Linked DNA regions of Homo sapiens. The protein of the gene in region 2 binds, or shares a complex with, the protein of the main gene of each other region. Each region holds a gene or a part of one and is shown on either strand. Other genes may lie near its edges. The genes, in order: NME7, TUBGCP5, TUBGCP2 and TUBGCP3.

The links.
Region 1: TUBGCP5 (region 2) and NME7 share a complex: the UniProt entries of both Homo sapiens proteins name them as parts of the gamma-tubulin ring complex.
Region 3: TUBGCP5 (region 2) and TUBGCP2 share a complex: the UniProt entries of both Homo sapiens proteins name them as parts of the gamma-tubulin ring complex.
Region 4: TUBGCP5 (region 2) and TUBGCP3 share a complex: the UniProt entries of both Homo sapiens proteins name them as parts of the gamma-tubulin ring complex.

Annotation. Positions count from the first base shown.
Region 1 is NC_000001.11:169,364,798-169,372,346, forward strand, and holds the start of NME7 (nucleoside diphosphate kinase homolog 7), read right to left. Parts: upstream 3,001-7,549; 5' UTR 2,914-3,000; coding exon 2,911-2,913; intron 1-2,910. Other genes in the region: BLZF1 (golgin-45), read left to right, coding at 4,726-4,753. UniProt on the Homo sapiens protein: Possesses an intrinsic kinase activity. Displays 3'-5' exonuclease activity with a preference for single-stranded DNA. Does not seem to have nucleoside diphosphate kinase activity.
Region 2 is NC_000015.10:23,015,308-23,022,700, forward strand, and holds part of TUBGCP5 (gamma-tubulin complex component 5), read right to left. Parts: intron 6,855-7,393; coding exon 6,652-6,854; intron 4,074-6,651; coding exon of another isoform or gene 4,028-4,073; coding exon 3,912-4,027; intron 2,735-3,911; coding exon 2,466-2,734; intron 1-2,465. UniProt on the Homo sapiens protein: Component of the gamma-tubulin ring complex (gTuRC) which mediates microtubule nucleation.
Region 3 is NC_000010.11:133,284,635-133,292,027, forward strand, and holds part of TUBGCP2 (gamma-tubulin complex component 2), read right to left. Parts: exon of another isoform or gene 6,768-7,393; intron 6,674-6,767; exon of another isoform or gene 6,199-6,673; intron 5,336-6,198; coding exon 5,190-5,335; intron 4,387-5,189; coding exon 4,206-4,386; intron 3,676-4,205; coding exon 3,495-3,675; intron 995-3,494; coding exon 822-994; intron 580-821; coding exon 451-579; intron 1-450. UniProt on the Homo sapiens protein: Component of the gamma-tubulin ring complex (gTuRC) which mediates microtubule nucleation.
Region 4 is NC_000013.11:112,521,886-112,529,278, forward strand, and holds part of TUBGCP3 (gamma-tubulin complex component 3), read right to left. Parts: intron 5,600-7,393; coding exon 5,489-5,599; intron 5,166-5,488; coding exon 5,057-5,165; intron 625-5,056; coding exon 435-624; intron 1-434. UniProt on the Homo sapiens protein: Component of the gamma-tubulin ring complex (gTuRC) which mediates microtubule nucleation.

The DNA.
Region 1 (7,549 bases), on a different chromosome or scaffold from region 2:
CTCTAGGGACTAAAACAGCCTTGTAAGACTAATAGAAGGCCGCAAGGTTAGGACTATGGGAGGGACCTAAAATCTGCTAAAATATAGGCATAGGTAAGCAATAACCAGCTACTGTTCCTTGCTTTTCTATAATTTCTTACTATTCAGAAGTCATGTAGCCAGAGGTCACAAGATTTGTAACTTCACCAATTGCTCCTTTAGATAACATCACTATTGTAAAACCTAAGATTGGTCTTGAGATATTTTCCAGGCTTCTGCATTCTGGCAAACCTCCTGATGCCACCCAGATACATGCCTCATACCAAGAAACTGACTCTACTAGTCCTATGACTCTCACCTAGACAACTGACTCAGCACAGGAAGACAGTTTGGAAACACCTATAAATTCATCCCCAACCAATCAGCAGCGCCCATTCCCTACCAACCTGCCCACAAAATTATCCTTGAAAACCACAACTTCCAAGCTGTCAGGGAGGCGGATTTTAGAAATATTTCCCATCCTTCCACTCAACTGCCTTGCCTCCATTAAACTCTTTCTCTGCTGCAACTCCTGCATTCTCAATGTTTGGCCTTTCTGGGAAGTGGGCAAGAAGAACACGTTGGCCTGTAATAGGAGAATAAATAAGTTTGGCAAGCAACAAGAGGGTGCAAGTATTCTGTGTAGAAGGAATTGCAAGTGCAAAGTAGAAAGAGGAGGCATACTACCAGTTTGAAGTTGCTTGGTATGTTCAATGAAAAGCAAGTAGCTAAAAGGCAAGAGAATTTTTTTTTTTTAAGTATGGAAAGGGAAAGGCAAAAGCTAGACAGAAAAGTGCTTGTTCATGGAGGAACTTGTGTGCCATTCTAGACATTTTACTGTAGGAAATAGGGAATCTAGAGTTTTAAGGAGGTGAGTAAATCAACAGGTTGGGTTTTTAAAAATTCCTTCTTGTGGCAGAGAAAATAATGGATTGGAGAATTTCCAGACCAGACTGTAAAAGTCACTATTAAAATAATCACGAAATGAGGAGATGACAAACTAAAATTTGATCTAGTGAACAACTGAATATGGGAGAAATAGAAGAGGGAGGAATGTAGGATAACTCTGATTTCTAGTTTAGGTTATAATATAGTAGTAGCATTATTTAACTTGGTGAAAATAGGAGAAACCAGGAGGAAAGATAGCAAGTTCAGTTTTGGTCATATTAAGTTTGAAGGACATTTGAGACAGATGTGTCCGGGAAGCAACTGAGTTAGGCATTAGTAGATCTGAGAGGAAAATTGAAATTTAGAAGCAAAATCAAAGGTGTTAGTAGAATCCATGTGAGTGGACAAAATCACCCAAGGAAAATGTCTAGACTAAGAAATGAAAGTAATCAAGGAGTTAATTCCAAAGAATGACATTCAAAAACCAGGCACAGCCAGTAAAAGGAATTAATGACTATGAACCTCAGTTGTCACAAAGAGACTAAGTAATGTAAATTTTGAGAAGTAATTACTGTATTTGGTATTTAAAAGGCCATTAGAAACTTAAGCAAGAACAACTTTCTTGAAGCCATTAAAGAAGCCAGACAGAAGACTTTTGTCTGTTTGATATAAGTAAAAATAATATCCTTTCAAGAAGTTTACTGATAGATAGGAGGACTAGGAAATAACTGGATAAACACAGGATGGAGGACATGGTTTTGCTTTATTTAATTTTCATAAGATGTGTGACTTGAGCACTGAAGAGAAGAAACTGGAGAGGAAAAGGCTGAACGCACAGGAAAGAAAAAAACAACTGGAAGCGAAATGTAACAGATGGAAGCAAATGAGATCAAGAGCAAAGATGGATGGATTATCCTTTAATATCCCTTTCTCTACACTAGAAATACAAGACTAAAGGCTCGGCAAAAATATAGAGCAATGTGTAGGTTGGGGGCATGAGGTTGAAGAAATGGCCTGTTATACTCCATCATGTTTAGAAAGGAGAAATGAAGAGGGCAAAAGACAGGGTTTGTAAAGGGAAGGTTTGAAAATGTCTTCACAGAGAATGGGTCAGGGGAAAACTGGGGTAACCAAAAGGATTGCTGAGTAGTATGAAGAAACAAGGGGTGGTGGGTGAGGGCTCTGTTTCTAAATTCATAGCTATAACTATCTAAAGATCTTTCTATCCTCCAGTCCGTTATCCATAAGTGCTTAAAAGATATGGTAGTTAAGTGAATTAACTAGAACCCTCTCAAACATAGGGGTGAATTAAAATAACCTATAGGCTTATTTAAAATGCAAATACCGAGCTCCATTCCTTTCATTCAGAATTTCCAGGGGTGAAGCCCAAACAGTGAATTCCAGAAGCTCTCCAAGCAATCCCAGGAGAAATTTCTGTTTAAAAAAAAAAGAAGAAGAAAGAAAAGAAAAGAGAAAAGAAAAGCAAGCACAGACCTAGAAGGTAACCAACTGGATAGAAGAGCGCTGATCCAACATACACCTGTTAATGGCCCTCGTGGGGGCGTGGGGCAGTGCTCTGCCACTCAGAAAAGCAAAAAGACTCCAAGATCTAGGGAGATTCAGATCAGTGTTGAGACAGTCACATACACACCACCCCATACTCTTAATAAAGCGCGTTAATGTGAATCTGTGAACATGAAAAATGCCATGATGAACAATGCAAACACATAATGTTTGTTCAAAACAGGTTATTAGACTCGATGCCTTACCCTAAATTTTCTGTTTCATTACTCTAGAGACTTAGTAACATTAGTGGAATTCAGGGTGCTGTAAGAAATACGGAGAGCGAGGAGACTGCAGGAACAGCCCGTGGGAAGGGGGAAAGAGATAACGGGGAGAAGGTCGGGAGGACCGGACAACTTTAAGTGCCCATCCGCCCGAAGACTTGGAAAGCTAAGTAAGTAGGACCCCAGAGCCGTTCTTCTGGCATCCCCTGGCACTCACCATTGTCTCAGGATCTCAGCACTAGAAAATAGGTATCGTTGAGACAGGAAGACACCACCACCACCACCATCATACGGTTACTCAGGCAACAAAGCCCCGCCCACTGTCGCACGAGGCGTGGGACGCCACCGCCCCACCTCTTCGTCCTTAGTGGCTGGGAGTAATCTCAGCTGCGTTCATCCAATCGACAGACCCGCCCCTCCACGCTGTCGCCTGGGGCTACGAGACGCCATTATTCTGTTTCCGGCAGTTTTACTTCCGTTTGTTTAACAGCTGGCCCGGAAGTTTAAGTGAATATGCGGCTTGGGCTCCAAAAGTTGCTGTACGGTATTTTATTTTAAAGTAGAAATCTGTCCGCTTTTCACTTACGGAGGCCTTACAGTGTGTGTTCTGTGTTACTTGAGTTTATACGCACTGCAGAATTTGTTTACCCTGCTCTTTTGGAAACGTATTCCGGAAGCGAAACCCTGAGTAATCGGAAGTGGTTAGGAGTGAGAGAGCTGCTGGATATGCGGAGGGACTGGGCGGGTCGGCTTCCGAATGGAAGAGGTCTGTGAGAAGTTAACCTGGTGATACCGATCCGAAGAGCCTATCAAGTGAAGCCCCCTGAAATACGGAGAATAAGAATCTTAGAGGTAAATCCGAGGACAAGCAGGTATAACTAAGGATGTTGGAAAGGGACGGAGGTCTGGCTGGAGCTCGGTGGCCAGTAGCTTTGGATTTAGGGAAAGATTGTTCCGGGAAGACTTTTTCAGACAGGGATGAAACTTAGGTTTCGACTTCCCCGGACAGCAAAGTTGACAGGCTTGTCGCTTCCCGGCCTATCGCTTTCATACCTGCTCACTCCCCCTACTTACTTCTTCACCCCCTCCGCTTCATTTGGCATTTGCCAGCAGGCACTCGCTGTGCCTGTACGTTTCGCAGAGCAGCTATCAAGGGCAGTTTCAGGGATCGTTACTCTTACGAAGGGTTTTTTGGATACCTCTTTTCGGAGCAGTAGAGTGTAAGTGTAGAAAAGTTTGTGACTGTTAAGAAAGTTAGTCGTCGGGTTCACTAATTGAACTGAGTTGTATCTAGTACTGAGAACGATCTTTTTTTGTAGTGAAACCAGTTGTCATCTAGTGTACAGTTTGTCATATTTATATCATTGCAGTAGCATCACCTTCTTATATGTTCTCTGGTAAATCTGAGTCTGTACTGTAAGACAATGTATACATTTCTGAAAGCATGGGCTCGATATGTTTCTCTTTTTACTTTTGGAGCTACACTATTTTAATTTTAACTTTTTATTACCAAAAAAGTATAAATTATGTTATCTTGAGTAATATTTTTTGTCGTTTGTTAAACATCTAAACAGAAGCTCCTTTTTGATATGTGTGTGTGTGTATACAAATTGTGTCGGTATGTCTCCTAAGAAAGTAATTACTTTAAAATTCCTCTTGTCATATGGATGACAAAACCACCACAGTAACTTCATTCCCTTTGCTTGGCTAAAATTCAGGACATACTTCTGACAATTTAGAGTGTATTGGTGAGGATGGTGAAACGGAGTATTTAGAAGTAAACCACCCCTAATTTTTTTTTTTGAGACTTTTAGTAGACATAACAATGCCTTCTGTGAGAATGGGATATAAGGGACATTTCTCTTTCTAAATGCATGCGTACTAAATACAGAAGCAATTAAAATATCATAACTTTTAAATTGGAGGTACTCTATGTGTTTATATGATATTTTTAAAATTATTTCATATGCATACATTTCTAGGTTGTTCAGCAGAAGTCTTGGAGTGCATTTTCAGTGGTTAAGGTGAAAAAATGACTACTAAAAATTTAGAAACCAAAGGTAAGTGGCTTTTTTATAATTGTTTTTAAAACATGACATTTATGACGATGTGAAGGAACGTTTGAGCCAGATAACTAGATCTCATGGACCCCCTTGGGAATCATTTGTTATTTCAGATCCCTTTATGTTTATTTTTTAGTGCAGTGTTTATATTTCAGTACTTTAGATGTACAAGTGAAATTTAACATCATTAGTTAGAATTTATTAGGTGACTACTCTTAAACATTTAATGTTAATGCAAAGTTTTTAACAGCTATATTCCCTATACACTAGAAGATTACGATTTAAATAAGAATACACATTTTAAAGATTTAAGTAGATAGACAAAGCAACTAGGGTGTATCAAAGATCTCTTTCATGTTGTATTAGTTTGCTGGGGTTGCTGTAACAAAGTACCACAAACTGCATGGCTTGAACAACAAAATGTATTCTCTCAGTTCTGGAGGCTAGAAGTCCAAGATGAAAATGTCAACAAGGCTGTGCTCCTTCGGAAGGCATTAGAGACACTCTCCTAGCTTCCAGTGGCTTGCTGGCAGTCTTTGGTGCTCCTTGTCTTGTAGACGTACCACCCTTATCTCCGCCTTCATATTCACATGGCATTCTCCCTATGTGCATGTTTCTGTGTCTAAATTTACCCTTTTTATAAAGACAGCAGTCATATTGAAAAAAGGAACCCAGTCTACTCCTGTATGATTTCATCTTAACTAATTACATCTGCAGTGATCCTGTTTCCAAATGAAGTCTCATTCTGAGGTAGTGGGGGGTTAGTACTTCAACAAATAAAGATTTGGGGGACACAATTCAACCCCTAAATTGCTAAATACAGTAGTCACTTTTTAGTCCTAGCTGATTTGTCCTCTCTAATATTTAATACTGTTGACCATTCCCTGCCTTTTGAGATACGTTCTTTTGATGACTTCCATGACATCACTTTTATTTTCAGTCTACTCTGTAGCCTTTCACTGTCCAATGCGGTAATTACATGTGGCTATTTGAATTTAAATTAATATTTTTTAAAAATTAAAAATTCAGTTTCTCAATGACGCTTGCCAAACTTCAAGTGGTCGGTAGGCAAATATGGCGAGTAGCTATTTCAATCATTGAAGAAAATTCTGTTGGACAGCCCTGCTGTAGCTGTATCTTCTCTCTTTCTTTTTCAGCCTCTTCTCCTTCTTATTTATCTTTTAAATATCAACACTTTCCACCACTGTTTCTTTTCTACTCTCATGACTTCAGTAATTATCTATATAAATGACTTCCAAATCTATCTATATCCCTAATCTCCTTCTTTATGATTCATACCCTTATAGACTACTGCCTACTGGCCATCTTCACATAGCTGTAGGCAACAATTTTAACATGTCCCATAGTGAACTTCTCCTGACCCAGCTTATTCTTTGGATGGGTTGAGTTCTGCATGCTAGAACCATCAGTTAAAGATGGAAAACTGTTTTCTAGATGCCAATTTTTCAGCAAACTGACCTCCAGCCACAAACCCTCTCTAAAAGCAGGTTGAAATAAGTTTAAGAAACAAGGAAGAAAGATCATGCTAATAAATATTTAATTGAATTTAATTCAGCTTTGCAACAGCATTTCATAAGTCACCAGAAGGCTTTTATACCATTAGATAAGCAAGTCAGAGACTGTAATGAAAGTAATAAACTGGGGATTAATGGGAAATAAGAGCAGTTAAATAATTAATGTGAAAGCAACCAACATGGTGCTTGTCAAAAAGCAAAAACTAAATACAATATTATGATTAGTCATTAGAAGTACTGGCAAGTTCTCTGTGAAATTAAATTACTTTTTAATATTTATTATTACTTGTTTTTAATGAGGATTAGAGTTATAAGGCACTTTAACAAACATTATTTTGTGTGATCTTAATTATCCAGTAAGGAAAATAATTCTATTAGCCATATTTCTATTTAATCTGTCATCTGATGTTAGTGAACAAAAGTTACTTGTATTGCATGGCCTGTGAAAAGGTGTACTTGGTTGACATTTGTCAGTTGTCTGTGCTTCCTGTAACTGCCTCAGGAGATAAGTACGGTTGTTTGGTATAGCAACAGAACTTCCTCTCAGAAGACATTTGAGCAGCACTGTCATCATAAGAGGGTTGTATCATGGCTGCTAGTGCTGTTTCTGAAAGGGAAACATACAGTAAATAGTAACAATTAGAAACTTAAAATCCAAAGCTTTTCTTGGATGTGGGATTAAAATTGAAAATAAAGCTATTAAAGTCAACTAGTTTAGTAATAGTAGACCAAATAGAAAGGTCTGAGACATTTAAATATTTTTGATTCCATAAAATAGTCTAACACTAGTTCTGTAGAATAATAGGTGTTAGGTAAAAAAGATATTCCATGAGCAGATAAATTTGATAAATGCTGTATTAAAAGAGAGGCTATACTATGGGACCTCTCAGAGTCCTATAGTATAACTTTAATACTAATGTACATTGAAACTCTGTAGAGATGCAGTATGCAACATTGCCCACACTTATTTGACCAGGGATCTCTATCCATAGAGCCTGTGGTAAGAAGAATGCTTAGATTCCACTTCAGTAAATCTCGATGTTACTCTTAAGTCCATTGTATGTAACTTATTTTACTAATTTAATAATAACTAAACTTTATTAGGTGATATGGGTGACATTTAAAAAGACTCTTGATTTAAAATTACCACATGACAATCCCTAATTTGTTTAACTGTATCATAGCTGAATTTGTATATGTTCTGGAAAGTCTTTCAGACTATAACCAAGTTAGGAATTAATGATTTAGGGTAGAGGAA
Region 2 (7,393 bases):
ACTCCTGGCCTCAAGTAATCCACCTGCCTTGGCCTCCGAAAGTGCTGGGATTGGCTGGGCGTGATGGCTCACGCCTGCAATCCCAATACTTTGGGAGGCCGAGGCGGGTGGATTGCTTGAGGCTAGGAGTTTGAGATCAGCCTCACCAACATGGTAAAACCCGATCGCTACTAAAAATACAAAAATTAGCCAGGCGTGGTGGCACATGCCTGTAATCCCATCTACTTGAGAGACTGAGGCAAGAGAATGACTTGAACCCAGGAGGCAGAGTTTGCAGTGAGCCGAGATCATGCCACTGCACTCCAGCCTAGGTAATAGAGCAAGACTGTCTCAAAAAAGAAAGTGCTGGGATTATAGGCGTGAGCCACCACGCCCAGCCAACTGTGCCACTGTTGCCACAAACCCCCTCACTGTAGGCCACTGAGGCACTTGCAAACATCACTAAAGTGGATTACAACTGAAGAAAGTACATGGAGACTATACTACTGCATTTGTCCAGAACCAAGGTGAATGCATCCCACTGAACCCACACTCCAAGACCCATTCATATGAATAACTCTTTACAAAACGTACTCCATAAAATTGGAAAAGGTGACTTTCCCACCAGATGTGTAGAAATCAATGTAGAAATACATCAAACATGAAAAAGCAAAGAAACATGACACCTCCCAAGAAAACCAATAATTCTCTAGCAAGAGACTACAATGATATAGGAAATGCCGGAAAAATAATTCAGAATTAAAATCTTAAGGAAACTCGGTGAGATACAAGAGAACTCGGTGAGATACAAGACAGTACAAATAAACACTCAACAAAATCAGGAAAAGAATGATTTGAATGAGAAATTCAACAGAAACAGATGTTTAACAAACAAATTTTACAGTGAAAGAATTCAATGAATGAGGCCAGGCACGGTGGCTCACGCCTGTAATCCCAGCACTCTGGGAGGCCAAGGCGGGCAGATCACTTGAGGTCAGGAGTTCGAGATCAGCCTGGCCAACATGGTGAAACCTCGTCTCTACTAAAAACACAAAAAATCAGCCGGGTGTGGTGGCGGGTGCCTATAATCCCAGCTGCTCAGGAGGCTGAAGCAGGAGAATCACTTGAGCCAGGGAGGCAGAGCTTGCAGTGAGCCCAGATTGCACCACTGCACTCCAGCCTGGGTGATGGGAGTAAAACTCTGTCTCAGGAAAAAAAAAAAAAAAAGGCAAATGATCTGAACAGACATTTCTCCAAAGAAGTAATACAAATGGCCAAGAAATAGATGAAAAAATGCTCAGCATCACTAATTATTAGGGAAAATGCAAATCAAAACCACAATGAGGTATCATTTCACCCCAGTCAGGATGGTTATTTATCACGAAGACAAAAAATAAATGCTGGTGAGGATGTGGAGAAAAGGAAACTCTTACACAATGTTGGTGGGAACATAAACTAGTACAGACACCATGGAGAACAGTTTGGCGGTTCCTCAAAAAACTACAAATAGAACTACTATATGATATAGCAATCCCACTGGTGGGCATTTATCCAAAGGAAAGGAAATCAGGATATCAAAGAGACATCCGCACCCCCATGTTTACTGCAGCACTATTCACACAGCCAAGACATGGAATCAACCTAGGTGCCCAACAACAGATGAATGGGTAAAAAAATTGTGAGATATATATATATATATATGTATATATCTTGAAGATAAAAGAGTGAATCCTGTTGTTTGCAGCAACACTGATGGAAATGGTGGACATTAAGTGAAATAAGCCAGGAACAGAAAGTTAAACACTGCATGTTCTCACTCATCTGGTAGCTAAAAAATGTTGATCTCGTATTAGTAAAAAGTAGAACAGGATACCAGATGCTGGATTTTGTAGGGGGAAGGGAGAAAGAGGAAGATATTTGTTAAAGGATACAAATAGCTAGCTGGAAGGAATAAGTTCTAGTGCTCTGTATCACTATGGGATGACTATAGTTAATAATGTATTATAGAGTTGCACATAGCAAAGAAGAGGATACTGAATGTCCCCAACATAAAGAAGTAGTAAATGTTTGAGATGATGGAAGTGCTAATTATCCTGATCTGATCACTATATATGTATCAAAACATCACTATGTACCCCATGAATATGTACAATTATTATGTCAATTTATAAAAATAATAAAAGAAAAGAAATGGCAGGGGATTACTTTTTAAAGTTCCAGTCCTAAGGAATCCAGAGTGAGGAAAATGCATGTGGAACTTATCGTCACTGCCTTTTCAAACACAGCACTAAAAGTTTTCAATGAAGACAATCTTTTAAAAAATCAAGAGCAGCATGGTTACTAATTCAACCATGACGATAATTGCCACCGAAATAAGAGGGTTTGATGACTTGCAAACTACAAAATAATTAGGTATCAGGATGACAAGAGCGAGTAGGGTCAGGTGTCCCAACACCAAGAGAGACACAGGAAGACGGAACAAGTACCTCTGGCTCCTGCCTGGCAGGTGGTGCTCTCCGCACACTGCAGGTTCTTCAGCAGCTGCATCGACTTGCCAGCCATTATGATCTGCTTCAGGACAGGTTTGAGGAAGGACACCATGGTGTGCTGCCTGCTGGAGGGCCCCTGGTCACTGCCGGAACTCGCACTAGCGTTATCACTCATTTTTTCTTCATTTTCTGTCTTTTCTGATACGCTATATAACGTGTAAGTTGCATACCAGAAGTCTCTGTGATTAACTGGAACATTTTTGTTTCTAAAGAGATTCAAAAGAATTTTAAACTCTTATTTCTCTTTCTTAAAAACAGCATACTTGTTCTAGTTTGTTGTCCAGACATTATAAAACATAGTATTAATTATTAGTAAACTGAAGCAAACTTTAGGCAAAATGGGACAGTTTTAATCTCATCTCAGTTTAAAGAGAAAAGTGAATAAATACTTTGAATAGTGTAAGTAAAATTTAAGTAGAAATAGTTTCCTGAATTGGAATTATTTAAAATATGACTAATTTGGTCCTCTTTAGAAGAAGAATAAAAGTTTATCCATTTACCATCTGCTGTGAAACTAATTTGCAGACTTCTCTATCATTTTCCCTACAAAGATTCTTAACTGGACTACTTTTAACAATAAAATGATGGTCAATCATCACCCTAGAAGAACAGTCAGAGTCCTATTTTTCACAAAAATTCTCATGTGAGATTGATGAATCAGAACACAGTGACAGATATGAGATTGAGTTGAAGGAAGGGTCAGTTCACTTATGTGAGCATTGCATACATATTGCTACCCTTCCAGAACACTAAAGACTTAAAGTTATCCTTCCTGATGAGCTCAATGGATAGCTATCAATAGAAACCATATATCTAAATATACCGCATAATTTAAAATTGGGCTAAAAGAGTACAAATAGCTCTACATTGTTTATATGATTCTATTCAGAAAAATCAATTAACTGAAGGGAAATTGTCATAAATGGATTAAGATTTTCCTTGTTTTGTAAAATATACTAAGGTAAAAGAAATCAGTAGATAATTCAGAGAAATAAATATATTAGAGGCATACTCTGTAATATTTCTGTATCTCTTTACTGATAATTTACAATGGAAATAGCTGAAACCATATGATATCATCTAAACTCATTTTATGGGAAGCAGTGTGTACTAGCTAGCCATAAATATACTACCATCCAAAAATATAATTTGCTTAAGAAAAGTTGCGGACTGACAAAACTTGGACAAAGATATTTCTAATCAGCTGGTATTACTGATGCCTTCCGTAAAAATGAGATAGAACTTGCCTATGATGACGACAAGTTCTGTGATGTGAACTGTGCTTTCTCAGTACTGTCTGAAACTAACGAAAGCATTTGATTTTCATGGGGAGGAAACTGGTGATGCCAGCCCCCAGTGACCTTGTGCTCTGCTGCAGCTCACCTCTGGATGATGAACTCCCTGGCGCCATCCCACAGGTGCCCGTGCACGATCCACTCGTCCACCGTCTGCAGGTAAGGCCGCACCGTTTCCACCCAGAGAGAGAAAAGGAGGGAGACCTGAGGCAGAGAGTGTGCACGGTCAGCTCTCAGGGTTCCCTGGTCACTAGGATAAAAGGAGGTTTAAACATTTCTGAAATGCCTTTAAAAAAGTGATCGGATTTCTATGTTTTTTGGGGCACAAAGAAATTAAAAATCCAAAAACATACACTATAAAATCCTTATGAAAAACTCACCTAAATGCCGGGCGTGGTGGCTCACGCCTGTGATCCCAGCACTTTGGGAGACCGAGGTGGGCGGATCACCTGAGGTAAGAAATCGAGACCATCCTGGCCAACATGGTGAAACCCCCTCTCTACTAAAAATACAAAAATTAGCTGGGCATGGTGACACGCGCCTGTAGTCCTGGCTACTTGGGAGGCTGAGGGAGGAGAATTGCTTGAATCTGGCAGGTGGAGGCTGCAATGAGCCAAGATCGTGCCACTACACTCCAGCCTGGCAACAGAGTGACACTGTCTCAAAACAAAAAGAAAAAAAAAAGAAAAAAGAAAAACTCACCTAAATATGGGATGATCATATTGTTTGTAGTCCAGACTGGGAAACTTGAGAGTGAAAGTGACACAGAGGCAGCAGGTGTATCCTGAGATAGCCCAGGCAAGCGAACAAGGTTTCCCTATCTAAATCCTATTACTAGCAAAGCATCCATTAAGGATGAGGAAATTGGCTGGGCATGGTGGCTCACGCCTGTAACCCCAGCACTTTGGGAGGCTGAGGTGGGCAGATCACAAGGGCAGGAGTTTGAGACCAGCCTGGCCAATATGGTGAAACCCCATCTCTATTAAAAAAAAATACAGCTGGGTGTGGTGGCTCATGCCTGTAATCCCAGCACTTTGGAAGGCCGAGGTAGGCGGATCAGGAGGTCAGGAGCTCGAGACCAGCCTGGCCAACATGGTGAAACCCCATCTCTATTAAAAATACAAAAATTAGATGGGCATGGTGGTGGGCGCCTGTAATCCCAGGTACTCAGGAGGCTAAGGCAGGAGAATAGTTTGAACCCAGGAGGCAGAGGTTGCAGTGAGCCAAGATCATGACACTGCACTCCAGCCTGGGCGACAGGGCGAGACTCCATCTCAAACAAAAAACAAAAAAAAACCCCAAAAAATTAGCCGGGCATGGTGATGTGCGCCTGTAGTCCCAGCTACTCAGGGGGCTGAGGCAGAAGAATCACTTGAACCTGGGAGGTGGAGGTTGCAGTGAGCCAAGATCGTGCGACTGCACTCCAGCCTGGCAACAGAGCAAGACTACGTCTCAAAAAAAAAAAAAAAAAAAAAAGAAAAAAAGAAATATGGTATTAAATTGGTGTGAAAAAAAGTTATACCAACAAACTAGAAAATACACCTAATGTACATACCCAACTAAGACTGTAGCATTCTAAATTACAGCCTCTAGTTAGATTTTTATTTTTAAATCTATATATTGTTTGAGACAGGGTCTTGCTCTGTTACCCAAGCTGGAGTGCAGTGGCACAAACATGGCTCACTGCAGCCTTGACCTTCCACACTCAAGCCATCTTCCTGCCTTAGCCTCTCGAGTACCTGGGACCATAGGCATGTGCCTCCAGAGCTGGCTACCTTTTTTGAGACAGAGTCTTGCTCTGTTGCCCAGGCTGGAGTGTAGTGGTGCGATCTCGGCTCACTGCATCCTCCCGGGTTCAAGCAATTCTCCTGCCTCAGCCTCCTGAGTAGCTGGGATGACAGGTGTTCGCCACCACACTAGGCTAATGTTTGTATTTTTAGTAGAGACGGGGTTTCACCATGTTGGCCAGGCTGGTCTCGAATTCCTGGTGTCAGCACACCTGGCTACTTTAAAAATTTTTTGTAGAGACAGGGTCTCAGTATGTTGCCCGGGCTGGTCTCAAATTCCTGGGCTCAAGTGATCCTCTCACCTCAGACTCATATGTAGCTGGGACTACAGGCGTGAGCCACTATGCATGGCCTAGATTTGTATTTTTTAAAATACAATATAAAATATATAACATAAAATTTATCTTAACTGTATATTTTAAAAAATTTTAATTTAACTAATTTTTTAAAGACAGAGTCTTACTATGTTGCCCAGGCAAGTCTCAAACTCCTGGGCTCAATCAATCCTCCTGCCTCGGCCTCCCAAAGTGTTGGGATTACAGGCACGAGCCACTGTGCCTGACCCTCAGCATTTTTAAGTTCAGAGGTTTTAAGTACATTCATATCGTTGTGACAAATCTCCAGAACTTTTTCATGTTATAAAACTGAAACTCTGTACCCATTAAACAACAGCTCCCCATTCCCCAGCCCTTGGTAACCAGCATTCCACTTTGTTTCTGTGGATGTGTCTACTTCAGCTATCTCATGTCATGTTAGTTACATGTTAGTGTTTATGTAAGAAAGCGTTATTGTAAATATCTATACACATCAGGTAGGTACTTCTCACAGCTTGCCTTGTCCTTGCCTCATCCTTCTGAGGATCTTGGCAATTAGAGCTGAAAAGCCAGTTTCCTACAGCCTTAAATTTGGAAGTTAATTTAAAAACTCTGAACTGTCTGACGAGTCATCATTCAAGTATCAACAAAGAACTACCATCAGCTGTCTATCACTCCTCTGCTGTGCAGCATGGAGTCACACACTTTAGGCAGAAGTCTCACTTACGGTTTGCTCAGAGGCTTCTCCAACATTGTCATATTCAAGAATGGCCTTGTACAGGGTGTTAAGCAGGTGAGAGGCCCGGACGACATTTCGAGTATCAGGTGGAACTTCTGCTACTCCAGTACTAAACACTTTGTGCAGAACCTTGAGCTGAGACAATCGAGGTGCCAACTTGTCCACCACTATTGCAAGAGTTATTGTAGTATCTGCAAATATCAATAAATCAAACTCAACAGCAAGGAAAAATACATGCATCTAAAATGTGACATAAATGCTGGCAAATCATCAGGCTTATGGACAGGCAGGGCAAAATGGAGGACGGTGGATTTTAATCTCATACCACAAGGACCTAATTTCCCTAAGGAAGAACTCCTGCAAGTCACAGAGAAAAAGACAACTCAGCAGAAAAATAATGTATAAAGGAACTGACAGTTCATAAAAAAGGAATGATGAGTGATTCTAAAACATACAGAAAGTCACTTGACCTTACTTATAATAAAAGAACGCAAATTAAAATTACACTAGGTAAAACAAAACACCTCCCAATGGGCTAATGTTACAGAGAGGGGTGAGGGAGGCTGTGCCTACAAAGGGCTGCACAAGCAAGCTCCTGGGAGGCGATGGCACAGCTGTGATCTGAACATGGAAGTGGCTATGTGGAGCTAGACATGTGATAAACTATACATGAATATACCACACCCACCCCTGTTCAAAGCAAGTTCCTGCGACACTGGTGAAACCATGT
Region 3 (7,393 bases), on a different chromosome or scaffold from region 2:
ACAGGCATGAGCCACTGCACCCGACTGGACAAATTCTTATGAAGCTCTGCCATCGACCCCTTTTTTCAACACCCTAGAGGCACAGACCGGCTGCAAAGCACCTCTGGTCCCAGCAAGATGTGGCTGTCCGCTCTCGGGAGGAGCTAGTGTCCTGCACACCGACCTGGGCAGTCTCCATGCCCGTGCAGTCACCACAAGGCTCCAGAGAGGGCTGAGGGACAGAGCCAGCATCCCCTGTGGGGTGGACGGCAGCGCCGTGCAGCCCCAAGACAGGAAAATGAAGCAATGAAGCATTATGGATCTAAAGCCACCAACGTGCGCTTCCAGATGACACTTCCAGAAGCCTAGAAAGCTGTCTACCAGGAGGGCACAAGGGGGGCGCTGCACCACTGGGCAGAGTGCAGCGAGCGCTGCTTCAGGAGGGCATGCGGGGGCAGAGGAAGAACGCACCACTGGGCGGAGTGCAGCGAGTGCTGCTTGGCGGTTTTGTTGCTGATCCAGACGCTGCAGAGCTGCCGCTCCACGTGCTTGCAGTAGAACATGTGCCTGAAGAGCATCTGGTAGCGAGTGAGGGCTTTCCTGCAAGAGACGTGGCGGCACCTCAGGTGGGCCTCCGTGACCGGCGGCGTCGTGGACACGGCGTCTGTACTCCACAGTCCGCACCGTGGCCCCCGGACAGCCCGTGAATCTCTCGGACACTGAAGGCCGGGGAGAGCCGCCTTGGGTCCTCTGTGGGACGAGGTGGCCACCGCGTGGCACAGTTCTCGCTTCTGCCAAACCTGAGTGAAGATCTGGCAGGTGCCCGAGCAGCCGACCCGCACCTGTTGATGATGAGCGAAAGGGGCCACTTGACGATGTAGTCGAAAGAGAAGGCCTCCAGGCCGCTCAGCGCCAGCTCCGTGGGGTCGGCGTGCGCCATCGCCTTCTCCTGCTTGGTCTCGATGGCCAGGACGCGCAAGAGCTGAGTGATGAGGTCATGGGGCATCAGGTCGATCTTGGAGGGAAGGAAATGAAACAAAGCATCCAGTTTTAAGGAAAAGACCCGAAGTCGCATCCCGATCGCCATCCTCGCTCACAGACCCAGCGCTGACGTAAGGTTCCCTACATTCCGATTCTAAATATCAGAGGCTTTTCAAAAACCCAAACATCTACTGATAAATCAAATTCAAAACTGAACCACTTCCCATCAGAACAAAACAACAAAAATTCAGATGAATTACTTTGTAAATACCCACTGCTGCTGTGGGTGGTATAAGGGAAAAACCGCTAAGGACGGTGAAAGAAACGTGATTCCTTAGGACGAAAACCTTTGTACCATGATAAGCACCAGGCCCAGGTTGAAAAATGAAGCATATTTGACGAGGGACATAATAGTTATTATAAGCAAGTAATACTGTCCTCACGTTAATCACTCGAGTATTTGCTAAGTTCCAACCACCCGCAACAGAGTTCCTACAAAACCATCGCACAACGACAGGACAGGAAATGAAGGGCAGGGGATAAAGCAAGAAGAAACAAGCAGCGGACAGACGAAATCGTGACCATCACAAACGCAGAAATGAGCCCCTGACATCACTTGTCCATCAAATAGCCAAGGTGGGAGCTTTCGCAGGTGTGCAGACAGCAGCGTCCTGAGACTGGACTCCATCAACTCCAGCAAGGTCAGCCTAGTCATACAAGGGCCATGTATTGTGACCCAACAATTTCACTACCAGGAATTTTTCCTACGAAAATATTCCTGCTCCTAACAAGAGACCCCAAAATATCTGAATCAAGAATAGACAGAATGACAAGGAGAAAAGCAGTTCTTCAGTGACAGGGAGACTCGGTGCCCTACTTCTAACCACGGAGAGAACCGCCGGACAGACGATCAGTGAGGAAAGACACGGCCTCAACCCACCTGCAGAACACCACCCCAACAGCACCGAGGGCGCGTCCTCCTCCCGCGCGCACGGAACCGAGGGCACATCCTCCTCCCGCGCGCACGGAACACTCTCCAGGATGGATGTGGGGCCACTACACAAATCAATACATTTCACAAAACTGAAATCACAAAAAGTCTGTTCTCTAACAAGGAGATAAAGTTAGAAACAAGCAACAGAAGGAAAACCAGAAACTTCACAAACATGTGGAAGTTAAACATAAACCACCCACGGCTCCAACAAGAAATCAGAGGGAATCAGAAACACCTCCAGACAAACAGAAATTATGACGCTAGGGGATCAGCGAAGGCTGCACTCGGAGGGATGTTTACAGCTGTAAACTAACTTTTCAAATTAAGAAACTAGAAAAAAGAAGACCACACTGAACCCCTAAGCAGCAGACAGGAGTAACAAAGATGACAGAAGAGAGAAAACAGAAAAATACAGTCAACAAACCCAAGAGTTGGTTCTTTGAAAAGATAATGAAATCGACAAATTTCTAGCTACATCAGCTAAGACGAAAGAAGATTCAAATTACTAAAATCAGAAAAAGAAGGGATATAACTACTAATCTTACAGAAATAAAAAGCAGATACTAGAAACCCATGAACTGTGCACCAGACAAGATGCGAGACAGACAGCCGACCAAGAGGAAAGGGACTGAGCAGACCTGTGGCCAGCAAGGGGCCAAGTCCCCCTCAAAAGTCTCCAACAAAGACAAACCCAGGGCCCAAGAGCTCCCAGGCAAACCCTGCCAAACAGCCAAAGAATCAACACCCTCCTGGGGAGGCGCAGGTGAAGGATCGCTTGAGCCCAGGGGTTCAACCAGCCTGGGCAACACAGACCCCCGTCTCTATTAAAAATAGTAAAAAACAGATAAAACATATATATATTTTAAAAAACGGCTGGGCACGGTGGCTCATGCCTGTAATCCCAGCACTTTGGGAGGCCAAGGTGGGTGGATCACCTGAGGTCAAGAGTTCAAGACCAGCCTGGGAAACATGGTGAAACCCCATCTCTACTAAAAATACAAAAATTAGCTGGGCGTGGTGGCGCGCACCTGTAATCCCAGCTACTCGGGAGGCTGAGGTAGAGCATCACTTGAACCCAGGAGGTGGAGGCTGCAGTGAGCTGAGATCATGCCACTGCACTCCAGCCTGGGTGACAAGAGCAAAACTCCGTCTCAAAAAAAAAAACAAAAAACAACGACAACAAAAAGGCAAAAACAAAAAGAATTAACACCACTCCTGAAACCCTTTCAAAAGACCTGAAACCCTTTCAAAAGACAGATGGAGGGACACGTGAAAACAATTCCACAAGGCCAGCATGACCTGAAAGCCAGGCCCGGACGAGGGCACTGCAGGAAAACCCGAGACCCGCGCCCCTCCAGAGCACAGGCACAAAGACCCCCGATCCCGGCAAGCCGGCCCCGGTAGCCAAGTGAAGGAAACAGACCCTGCGGTCGCCTCACCGGGACGGGGAGTGGGGGACAGGGCTGGCCTCTGCTGTGCTCTCCTCCCAGCCCCTCCGAGGCCTCTGCCACAGGGGACAGCCCCCGGCACCCCCACCCACCTTGAGGTCGTCCTTGAAGGGGTCAGTGTTGGCCGTGCTCATGCGCAGCGCCAGCTCCAGGAGCGCTTCCAGGCGAGGGGGCGTGATGTCCTCCACCGGCTTCCGGAGCTCCTCCTCCGCGAGGTCCATGAAGTGCACGAAGAAGTCGCCCTGGTCCATGAGGAAGTAGCGCTTGATGGACCTGCGCCAGGGAGCAGGCGTGAGCAGGTGCCCACCCGCAGGTGCCCGCCACAGCCAGGGAGCAGGCGTGAGCACGTGCCCACCCGCAGGTGCCCGCCACAGCCAGGGAGCAGGCGTGAGCACGTGCCCACCCGCAGGTGCCCGCCACGGCCAGGGAGCAGGCGTGAGCACGTGCCCACCCACAGATGCTCGCCATAGCCATCACCCTAAAACACACTACAACAGGCTAAGCGCTTGGCTCTCAGGCAGGGGCTGTGCAACCACCACGCAAGCTGTGGCAGGAGGAGCTGAGAAGGGGCTGGTGGGCCCTGGGCAAGGAGGGGAGCTGGGGCCCCTGGACAAGGTGACCGGGGGCCTACACCACCCACTGTGAGTGCCAGGTCCTTGAGCTAGAGACCATCCAGCAGTGCCCACTTTCAAAAAGACAAGGCGGAGCTGCCAGAAGAAACCCAGCGATCTCAGCCCCACGTCCCACAGGTTCCGGTTTCAGAGGGAGGTGAGTGCCCGCACAGGGACAGGGCACGGAATCACCTGAGGTGAGCCACCAGCTCCTTCTCCTCCATCAGGAAGTCCAGCAGCACCTTGCTGGCGTAGTTAAACGCCTTCTCGATCTGCTCCACATACGCCCGCTCTTTTAACGTGTAGATGATCTCTTTAGCCACCGGGCAGGTGACGTCATGGCCACACTCTCTGACCACATTTAGATATTTTCCTGAAAACACAGAAATTCAAAATTTTATTCTCCACATGGTCGATCTCAGGCCCCAGCTGTCTTTGTCTACACAGGAGGCAGTGGAATGGACATTGAATGGGCTCTCCACACGGTCAGTCTGAGGCCCCAGCTGTCTTTGTCTACACAGAAGGCAGTGGAATGGAAACTGGGCTGCATGAGGCGGCTCCACACCCTTGCTCCTTCCCGGTAAATCACTGTCAGCGGCTACAGACTGAGCTGGTGGTGGCAGGGCTTTGCCGTGGCTCTGCACATCTGGAATTTTCTAACCAAGGGCACAGAAATAATTTCGAACAGGCATTATGAGAACCGGATGGCTAATCGCTTCCCAACCCTTTCGTGACGGCCCCGATGTGCCGAGTCCAAGTCCCCGCGCCACTGCCCTGGGTCCAGGTCAGGCCCTAACCTGTGTGGTCAGAGATAGGAAACACTGCCGGCCGCCAGGCGTGTGTCTTTGCTGGTTTTTCCTGACATGCTAGCGGAGTTTTAGAAATCAGAAACAGAAATAGAGAAGGCACCTGTGAGAGAGCCTCGCAGGGTCAGGGACAGAGTCCCGGAGATGGAAACCTGAGGGAACCTGGCAACAGAGACCATCTCAAGGCCTAACTCAGCGCCGCAGCCCAGCCCACGGGCCAGTCCTGACCTCAGCCCCGCATTCACGGACACCAGGGCTCAGGGCAACCACAGGGTGAGGCACAGGCTCCCGGTGGGAGGGCCTGGGCTGCAGGAGACTCTCCAGGCAGAGCTGTGCTGCGCACCCCAAGTCCCCGCCCGCTGCGCCGCACCTGTGCTGAGGATCTTGTCCGCCATTTTCTGCAGGAAGGACGGGATCTGCTGCTGGACGATGGTGTACCGCTGGTCCCAGTACTTGTCGTTGTAATCCTCCTGGATCCTCTCCTTCCGCAGCTCGTGCTCCTCGACCATAAACTCACTAAAACCACAGGGAGCGCTTCGGTCACAGGCAAAGCAAGGGCGCCTGAGGCAGGCGACACTTCTCCAGGCCGGCAGCGCGCAGGGACATTAACAGAGGCCAGCACACTTCCAAGTAACGTTCCACAAGGGCCGAGCCTAATCTACCAGTTACTTCTCAACTGTGGGCTAAAACGAACCTAGGGGCCGGGCACGGTGGCTCACGCCTGTAACCCCAACACTTCTCGGCTAAAACGAACCTAGGGGCCGGGCACAGTGGCTCACGCCTGTAACCCCAGCACTTTGGGAGGCTGAGGTGGGCAGATCACGAAGTCAAGAGATCAAGACCATCCTGGCCAACACAGTGAAACCCCGTCTCTACTAAAATACAAAAAATCAGCTGGGCGTGGTGGTGTGCACCTGTAGTCCCAGCTACTTGGGAGGTTAAGGCAGGGGAATCGCTTGAACCTGGGAGGTGGGGGTTGCAGCGAGCCGAGATCATGCCACTGCACTCCAGCCTGGCAATGGAGCGAGACTCTGCCTCAAAAAAAAAAAGAAAAAAAAAAAAAAGAAAACCAACAAACCTACAAACCTCGCTCTGGAACGGAGTATTTAACCTGGGCTCAGGGAGAATGTACGGTCCGCAGAGATAGGTGGGAAACTGATTTGTCTTTATCTGCACCCACCTCTTTTTGGAATTTAGCATTTCCTTCCATGATGAGCCCAGGCAACAAAATGATGCTCGTGTGGGGTGCGTGGGGCCCTGACACCCAAAATGATGCTCGTGTGGGGTAGGCGGGGCCAACATTGACAGAAACCAGACATCTCCACGTCATCATCTGAACAACTTCAAACATCATTTACGCACTTCAAGTGTGAAGGTGCTTTCTTTAAAGGTGCCCATTATACCAGATTTTATTTGGTCCATTAGTAAAGAAATAACATTTCCACATCACTAATGTATTTTTTGAAAATATTTCAACAACGGTATCTTGACGTAATAGACATAATACAATTCTTTGGGAACTAACATATTTTTATCCATTTAAATATATCGCACTGAAGAGAAGCCGACAGACCCCACCAGATCAGGAAATCCAAGCACCAAAGAGGTTGAAGGACCTAATTGGAGGCAATTTAATGTCCTGCACACAAAAGAATAAGGCCATAAGCAGCTGGGCCATTCCTGCCCTGGGCCCCATGGGCAGCAGGCGGACATCTGCCCGGGGTGTGCTTTCCTGAGACCACAAGCAAAGGAAGGCCAGAGCCCCCAGAGAGGGCAGCACGCGCCCTCCGTGTCCCCCATGTCCCTCCGTGTCCCCCATGTCCCTCCGTGTCCCTGTGTCCCGGGGAGCCCTACCTGTACGGGAGAGGGCAGCATGCACCGTCCGTGTCCCCCATGTCCCTCCGTGTCCCCGTGTCCCTCCGTGTCCCCGTGTCCCGGGGAGCCCTACCTGTACGGGAGAGGGCAGCATGCACCGTCCGTGTCCCCCATGTCCCTCCGTGTCCCCGTGTCCCTCCGTGTCCCCGTGTCCCGGGGAGCCCTACCTGTACGGGAGAGGGCAGCATGCACCGTCCGTGTCCCCCATGTCCCTCCGTGTCCCCGTGTCCCTCCGTGTCCCCGTGTCCCGGGGAGCCCTACCTGTACGGGAGAGGGCAGCATGCACCGTCCGTGTCCCCCATGTCCCTCCGTGTCCCCGTGTCCCTCCGTGTCCCCGTGTCCCGGGGAGCCCTACCTGTACGGGAGAGGGCAGCATGCACCGTCCGTGTCCCCCATGTCCCTCCGTGTCCCCGTGTCCCTCCGTGTCCCCGTGTCCCGGGGAGCCCTACCTGTACGGGAGAGGGCAGCACGCGCCCTCCGTGTCCCCCATGTCCCTCCGTGTCCCCCATGTCCCTCCGTGTCCCTGTGTCCCGGGGAGCCCTACCTGTACGGGAGAGGGCAGCATGCACCGTCCGTGTCCCCCATGTCCCTCCGTGTCCCCCATGTCCCTCCGTGTCCCTCCGTGTCCCCGTGTCCCGGGGAGCCCTACCTGTACGGGAGAGGGCAGCACGCACCCTCCGTGTCCCCCATGTCCCTCTG
Region 4 (7,393 bases), on a different chromosome or scaffold from region 2:
GAAATGTCAGGGAGCAAAATGAAAAGGTCATAGTTTCATTTTTAGGTGAACATTAACTACAAATATAAAAGTAAAATTCAACTTTAAAATATATATTTTATTTTTCAGCTTTATTTCAAACTCAAGCTAAAGTTAAGTGTGATTTGACCAACTCCTCATACATGAAGACTGTAAGCCCCACAGTTTTGGAAAGAAATGCCAGTTTCTCTTATGAATAAAGCACAGAACATGACAATGATGCTCTGCTGATAACCAGAGAAAAATGAAGGGGCTTTACCTTTTGAAAATTTTACATTCTTTTCAGATTTTATTTTAAAAAGTATGCTCGAAGAATTCAACTCATTTTCTTTTAATATAATTTATTCTTTTAAATACAAGATTCCTTATCATGTCAAATATATTACTTATTTATAGAAATCAAAATAGTGCCTTACTTTAGCAAGTCCATTAAGTGCCTTATAAAGTCTCCTTGACCAAGAAGCAGGTACCGCCTCATTGCCTGCATGTGGTCCAGCAAGCTGTACTTTTTATTGAGAACATCCAACAGGTATTTGCTGGTCTCAAAATAAGCAGCATCAATCTTCCCCTGAAATGCATTTTCCAAGTCTGTGAATAGGTCTGCAGCTGTAAAGAACAACAGGGAAGAGCACACATGCATATGTAATTTGTATTTCCACAGAGGAGAAATGAAGGCACATACATCCAGACTCAGGGCCAACCACTGCCTGTGGCATCAGTAACAGACTGACCGCAGGCACAGACAGCTGGACATTCCACAAAGGAGACCAGAGCCCTAAGACCACACACATGAAAACAATTCTGCCAGCTGGGTTCACAGCAGACACCTACATGTGTGTCTTCATGATTTCCAAATCCCTTAATACACTGTAACTAACCGTAAATCTCACCAAAACACACTGGTAATAGGGCAAGTCAGTGCTGAGTCACCCGTCCATACCCATAAGATGTTTCCATAAATTAGTCTTAAGACCAAAACAGCACATGCAAATAAGCTTTGTGAATTGTACAACTCGCAAAAGTTGAGTAGTAGTATCATGCACCATAGAGTGAACTCTACGGAGATTGGTGGAGATGTCTAGGGGACAAAACCAGATTGTCACCAATAAAGACGCCTGACTCTAAGCAGTAACATAGCGGAAGAAAGCATTTCCATAGCTTTCTATTGAGAAGAAATTGCAGGTGGAGACTATACACATAACAGAGCTTCTTACAGTGCTGATTTACATCTGCAAAGCACAAAACCATTTTTAAAACTTATATGAATACTTCATTTCATTAAACCCACAATAATACTTAAGCTAGACAATAACCCCAGTGGGAGGAACAACCTCAGACTGAGAGAAGGAGGCAAAACGCTAGCTGAAGACTAAGCAAGGACAAGAAAGGCGAGATCTTCTGATTCAGAGTTTAAGTCTCTTTCCACTATCTGAGTTACCCAGTTTAAATATACCAGAAGACTCTTAAGATTTGTTTGTCCTTCCGAATAAGAAAGCAGTTAAGACAGGCCTATTTTAGTGTTGCTATTATTCCAATTTCACACTAGTAGCAAACAACTAAGATGCTCCCAGTGAAGAAACTGTAGTTATCTGAGGATGAGTGAGGTCTGCCTGGAGTCACGACACCACGGAACCCCTTGATGAGCTCACCACAGTCCTGTTTTAAGGGCATGGGGTTCTATTTCCATTGATCTACGTAGTTTTAATGACATAAAGATTTTTCTCTAGAAATGTTTTCATTACACCCTTGTTTGAGTCATTAAAAATTTTCATTCCAAAGAGAAGGTTTGAATCAGTCTTAGCCCAAAGCAGCCTATGAAGACACAGAACCCAGAGCCTCCTCGGAACTCTCTTTGCTCCTTCAGGGTTGAGGCATCTCTCGTGCTCAGTTTTTAAATTTTCACTATTTATTCTTTATTCACACTTTTAAATCTTCATAACTTTTTCACAGATAAAAATGAATTTGACATGTTCTCCTGTTTTTTGACCATTACTAGGAGTCTTTTAGGATTTGCATCTTCTGTCTTCCCAGTTATACTATAAATACTCAACAGCAGAAACTTTGCTCTCCGCAGACCCTGGCAGCCATGGACAGGACGACGGGGACCACAGGAGTCGTCACAGAGAAGCAGCAGCGTCAGCAGCAGCAGCGCCCCGTCACCCTCAGCATCTGCAGGGGACCAATCCCACGACCCCCACAGACACCAAAATTCCCTGATGCTCAAGTCTCTTCTACAAAATGAAGCAATATTTGCACCTAACCTACACACATCTTCCCATATACGGTAAATCATCTCTAAATTACTTATAATATCTAGCGCAATGTACATGCTATGCAAATAGCTGTTAAATTGTCTTGGTTTTTTGTGTATTTTTTTAGTGGCTGCCTTTTTTTAAGTGTTTTTGATCCTCAGTTGATTGAATCTGCAGATGTGGGGCGGTGGGTACAGGGGCCGCCAGCAGCACAGCAGACGCGGTGCTCACACAAGCAGCAGCAACCTTCATGGAGAGCCTCCGGCACAGCAGGCGCATGGGGACGCCCTGTCCCAGGCACAGCCCATGTGTGCGCCGCCTTCTCTAGGAACTATGAAAGGTCACAACTCGAACACAACTGCTCTCCTGGTTCTTCTTCCTTCCACCTCTTCAGTGTAGAAGCATTTCCCCAAAATCTATATTGGATCACATCTATCTCTATTCCAGGAACAATCTGGGGTCTATGTACCCCCCCACAAAAAAATACATGTAAAATTATGTCTGAATGCTTTAGGGTGAGAGGGCCCATGGCTCTCACATGCCTGGAAAGGGTGTCTCCCCTGGACCACACGGGAGCTCTTGCTACACCATCCTGCCTTGTCCTGAGTTACCATGGTGAGATAAGTGCTTCCAAAATCTCTATATTCGGCCCTGACTTTTAACCAGAGTTTCAGTATAGCATTTCCAATACATGCTGGAAGCTTCCACTAGTAAGTCCTCTCAGCTACTGAAAACCAAATTGCCCGAAATGACATTCCTCTCTCAGTGCTATGCTCTCCCGAAATCCCCTGCTGCCCTTCCGACTTGGCCTCACGAGCTCAGAGTTCTAGTGCCATCACTGACTCTTCCTGATCCCCAGCCCTCCTGTCCAGAGAGCCAAGTCCTGTTAAGAGAACATCTGTCATTCCAGTAACACCTGTAGCTAAAACCATACCCAGTAACCTATCCTGCTTCCTACATGAGGTCCTAGTCTGTCTCTCTTTAGTCTGTCACATTATTAAATAATAACTTTTTATTTTCACTACAATCTTTAGATAAGTCTAATTCGTCCTATTTCTCTTCTGCACTTCCATGCACATTATTCCTTTGTCCTGGGCTGCGCAATAACCCACAACCAAATTCTCCTCCTTCTCCATGGCCAGTGCAATTCCTGCCTCTTTCCAAAGCCTTCCTGTTGAGCCTTGCCTGAAAATACCCAAAGCGCTTCACCTGCACATCTCACGTCCCTGATCACTTTCACCTTTATTACTGACTACTGGTTATTTTACTACACATCTCCTCTCCAAGACCAGACTAATAAGCTCATGAAAGGAACAGTCATGGTGAAGTCATTGTCTCTTTCCTGTAGCTACCACAGTGTCCTACGCAAAGTAAATCTTTTGAATGAACCATGACAATATAAATAGCAAATACAGCCAAAACTGGAGAGCTATAAATATAAGTTAGCCATACACAAAACATCATGAAATTACTGAGGGTGGGGCAGGCGGCAAATGGGGAAAAGGAAGAGAACGAGGGAAAGCCTCAGCACTTCCCACAGGCTGAACGCTCATGCGACATTCTGAATGCAATAAACACAATAAGTGCAATAAGTCCTGGCTCTTCTCCAAACAAAGCCTTTGCATCCCAAAGAATAGGCTACCATTAGCAATATTTTTTCTGTTATTTCTTATTTTGGCACACTGCCACTTTATCATTTTAAAACAGCTATACCTATTCCAACACTTACTGTATAACTGTATAAAAAGGAAATTAAAAATTTACACAGTACTATATATATACATACATAATACTATGTATTAAGGTGTATCAGAGAGTAATTCTAATAATCTATAAATCCTATGGTACAAAAAATACTTTTAAGTAATCTGTAATATCAGCACATCATCATCACCTCCACTATCATCACCGCTATCACCATCATCATATCATTACTATCACCATCCATCACAATTATCATTGTCATTACTATCATCACATCACCATCATCATTACCACCATCATCACCATCACTATCATCACCACCATCACTGCCACCACCACGCCATCATCACCACCATCATCACCACCCATCCCCATCATTATCACTATCATTACACCATCACCATCATCACCACCATCATCACCATCAACATCATCAACACCATCACTGCCACCACCATGCCATCATCATCGCTGTCATCACCACCCATCCCCATCATCACTATCATCACACCATCACCATCATTACCACCATCATCACCATCAACATCATCACCACCATCACTGCCGCTACCACGCCATCATCACCGTCGCCACCCATCCCCATCATTATCACTATCATCACACCATCACCATCATCACCATCAACATCACCACCATCACTGCCACCACCATGCCATCATCACCACCCATCCCCAACATCATCACATCACCATAATCACACCATCACCACATCATCACCATCATCATCATCACCATCATCACTACCACCAGCACACCATCATCACATCCCCATCATCCATCCCCAACATCATCACATCACCATCATCACACCACCATCATTACCCCCATCATCATCACCATCAACATCATCACCACCATCACTGCCACCACCACGCATTCATCATCGCCATCATCACCACCCATCCCCAACATCATTATCATCACATCACCATCATCCCCATCATCACACCATCACAATCACTACGTCATCAACATCACTGTTACCATGAGTATCACCATCCTCACATCATCATCAACATCACACCATTGCCATCATCACCACCCCACCAGCATCATCATACCGTCCTGGGGTGACTCTGCAGACTTGGTCACAGCTATCATCTTTGTAGTGGGAGTCTGATCATGACAAACTTGGTGCAAGAAATTTATTGATTTTCCTATCAAAAGGACCTAAAAAGAAAAACATTCTATGATTACTTTTATGTAAATTTAAAACGACTGCCCAAATCTACAAATATTCGTAAGCTACAAATTGGCTATTGATTGAAAACTAACAAGAGCATCTGCTACAGTATGGAGCGAATTCTAGTAACTCAAAGATATATTGAACACATACTATACTGATGTATTCAATTAACATGCACTTACTTCATCTCCAGAACGTTAACAATCTCAAAACGCATGAAATTTTAACTGAAAATTGGTTTTGTCACATAATCTAAGTATACATAGCCATAAAACATCAAAATCACAAAAATCTCTTCTAATCCTACCTTCCTAGACTGATCCATCGTCATAAACGAAGGAATCATCGATTTCCTCAAAGTATACTTGTCGTGCCACAGTCGATCTGTTTTAACTGTTGGATCTGATGCTACAAAAAACTGAAAGCAAAGGGGCATGGAAATGTTCAAGAGTGATATTTATGGCAAAATATTAACCAACAGCAACATCAAAGAGTAAGTTATTCTAGAAAGCCAAGTTCTCCAGACACAGGGAGTCTTACCTATTTATACAATAAAACTTGTATGAAACACAGAAATCTCTCTAAATTGAACTATGTATTTCCTAAACTTTTAAAACTAAAGTATAACAAAAACAAGTTATGTCTTCCTTGGAGATTCAGAATGTCCATTAGTGCCTCTGCAGCATAATACTGAGGCTTCCTGGGCCACACGGAGCTCTTCCTCAGTAACGGTGCAGGCTTTTGGGGTTCCCCTCCCTCACAGGCAGCAGCTGTGTGTCTCCTCCCATCAGTCTGCCTGCCCTTGCAGTCTCTCTTTTGCAAAGCCCCAAAGCCTGGAACACAGAGGTGCCCAGGCCGGCGTCCTCTGTTCACAGACAAGTCCCAAGCTCTATGGGCAGACCTTGCTGTACATGTACCCATGTGTACAAGGGGCCAGCACCAGCCAGGTGGCACTGTAGAAGTGACCCCTGTGTGGCTCCCCCAGGAACCATCTGTGCTCAGGAGCTTTCTTCCTCACTGGCATGCAGCTCCCCTGCCCTGACCCTGACGGGCACCTACATCACTGCCGTTAGAAAGGAAACTGAGCAGTAAGGAGAAAATTCAATTGCTGTTGCTTCCAGTTTATTTGCCACTACAACAATGCAGCCATTCTCATTTTTCAATCATACACCCTAATAGAATTGCACTTTTATTTCTATAAACTTGTTTTATAAAAGCACAACTGCTGAATTAAAGTAGCTTTTAGTTTTTATAGACAATGCCAGGTTTCCTTTCCACACAGCTGTGTAGACTGACGCTCCCACGGGCAAGATGTCCTGTTTTTGCATCCTGGCTCATTTTAGATTTTGCCAGTCAGGTGGAATCATGGTTATCCTATATTGCTGTCATTAACCAAAAATGAAGCCGAGCATATTTTCATAGTTCTAATTGCCATTTGCTTTTCTTCTCCTGTGAATGGTCTTTTCATGCCCTTGACCCATCTTGCTATTCATTTTGTTCTCTCATCAATATACAAAAATTCTTTGTACATTAGGAATAGTGACCATTTGTGAATCATTAAATATTAGAGATTTAATTTTTCCAAGTTAATCATTTGCCATTGTTTATAGTATGGTCCATATTTTAGTTCTGATCTATTTTTTTGTTATATGTAGATAAATGTCAGTCTTCCTTTATGGTTTCTGAGTTTCCTGTCTTCCTAAGATCTTCCCATTCCTAGATTATGAAAATATTGTCCATCATGTTCTTTCAGTATTTCTATTGAGTTATTTTTATTACCTAGATCTGTTTTTTTTTCTTTTTGAGACAGGGTCTCACTCTGTGGCCCAGGCTGGAGTACACTGGCATGATCTTGGCTCACTGCAACGTCTGCCTCCCCAGCTCAAGCCATCCTCCCACCTCAGCCTCCCAAGTAACTGGGACCACAGGAGCACACCACCATGCCTGGCTAATTTTTTGCATTTTTGGTAGAGACAGGGTTTCACCATGTTGCCCAGGCTGGTCTCAAACTCCTGAGCTCAAGCGATCTGCCTGCCTCAGCCTCCCAAAGTGCTGGGATTACAGGTAGGAGCCACCATGCCTGGCCTATTACCTAGATCTTTAATTCCTCTGGAACTTGGTATAATCCTGGCACACAGTATGTTATAAGGGGGAAGTCTACGTCTTCTCCTGGATGGCATTTTTTTCTTTACTGGCCGAGCCGGCCCCATTT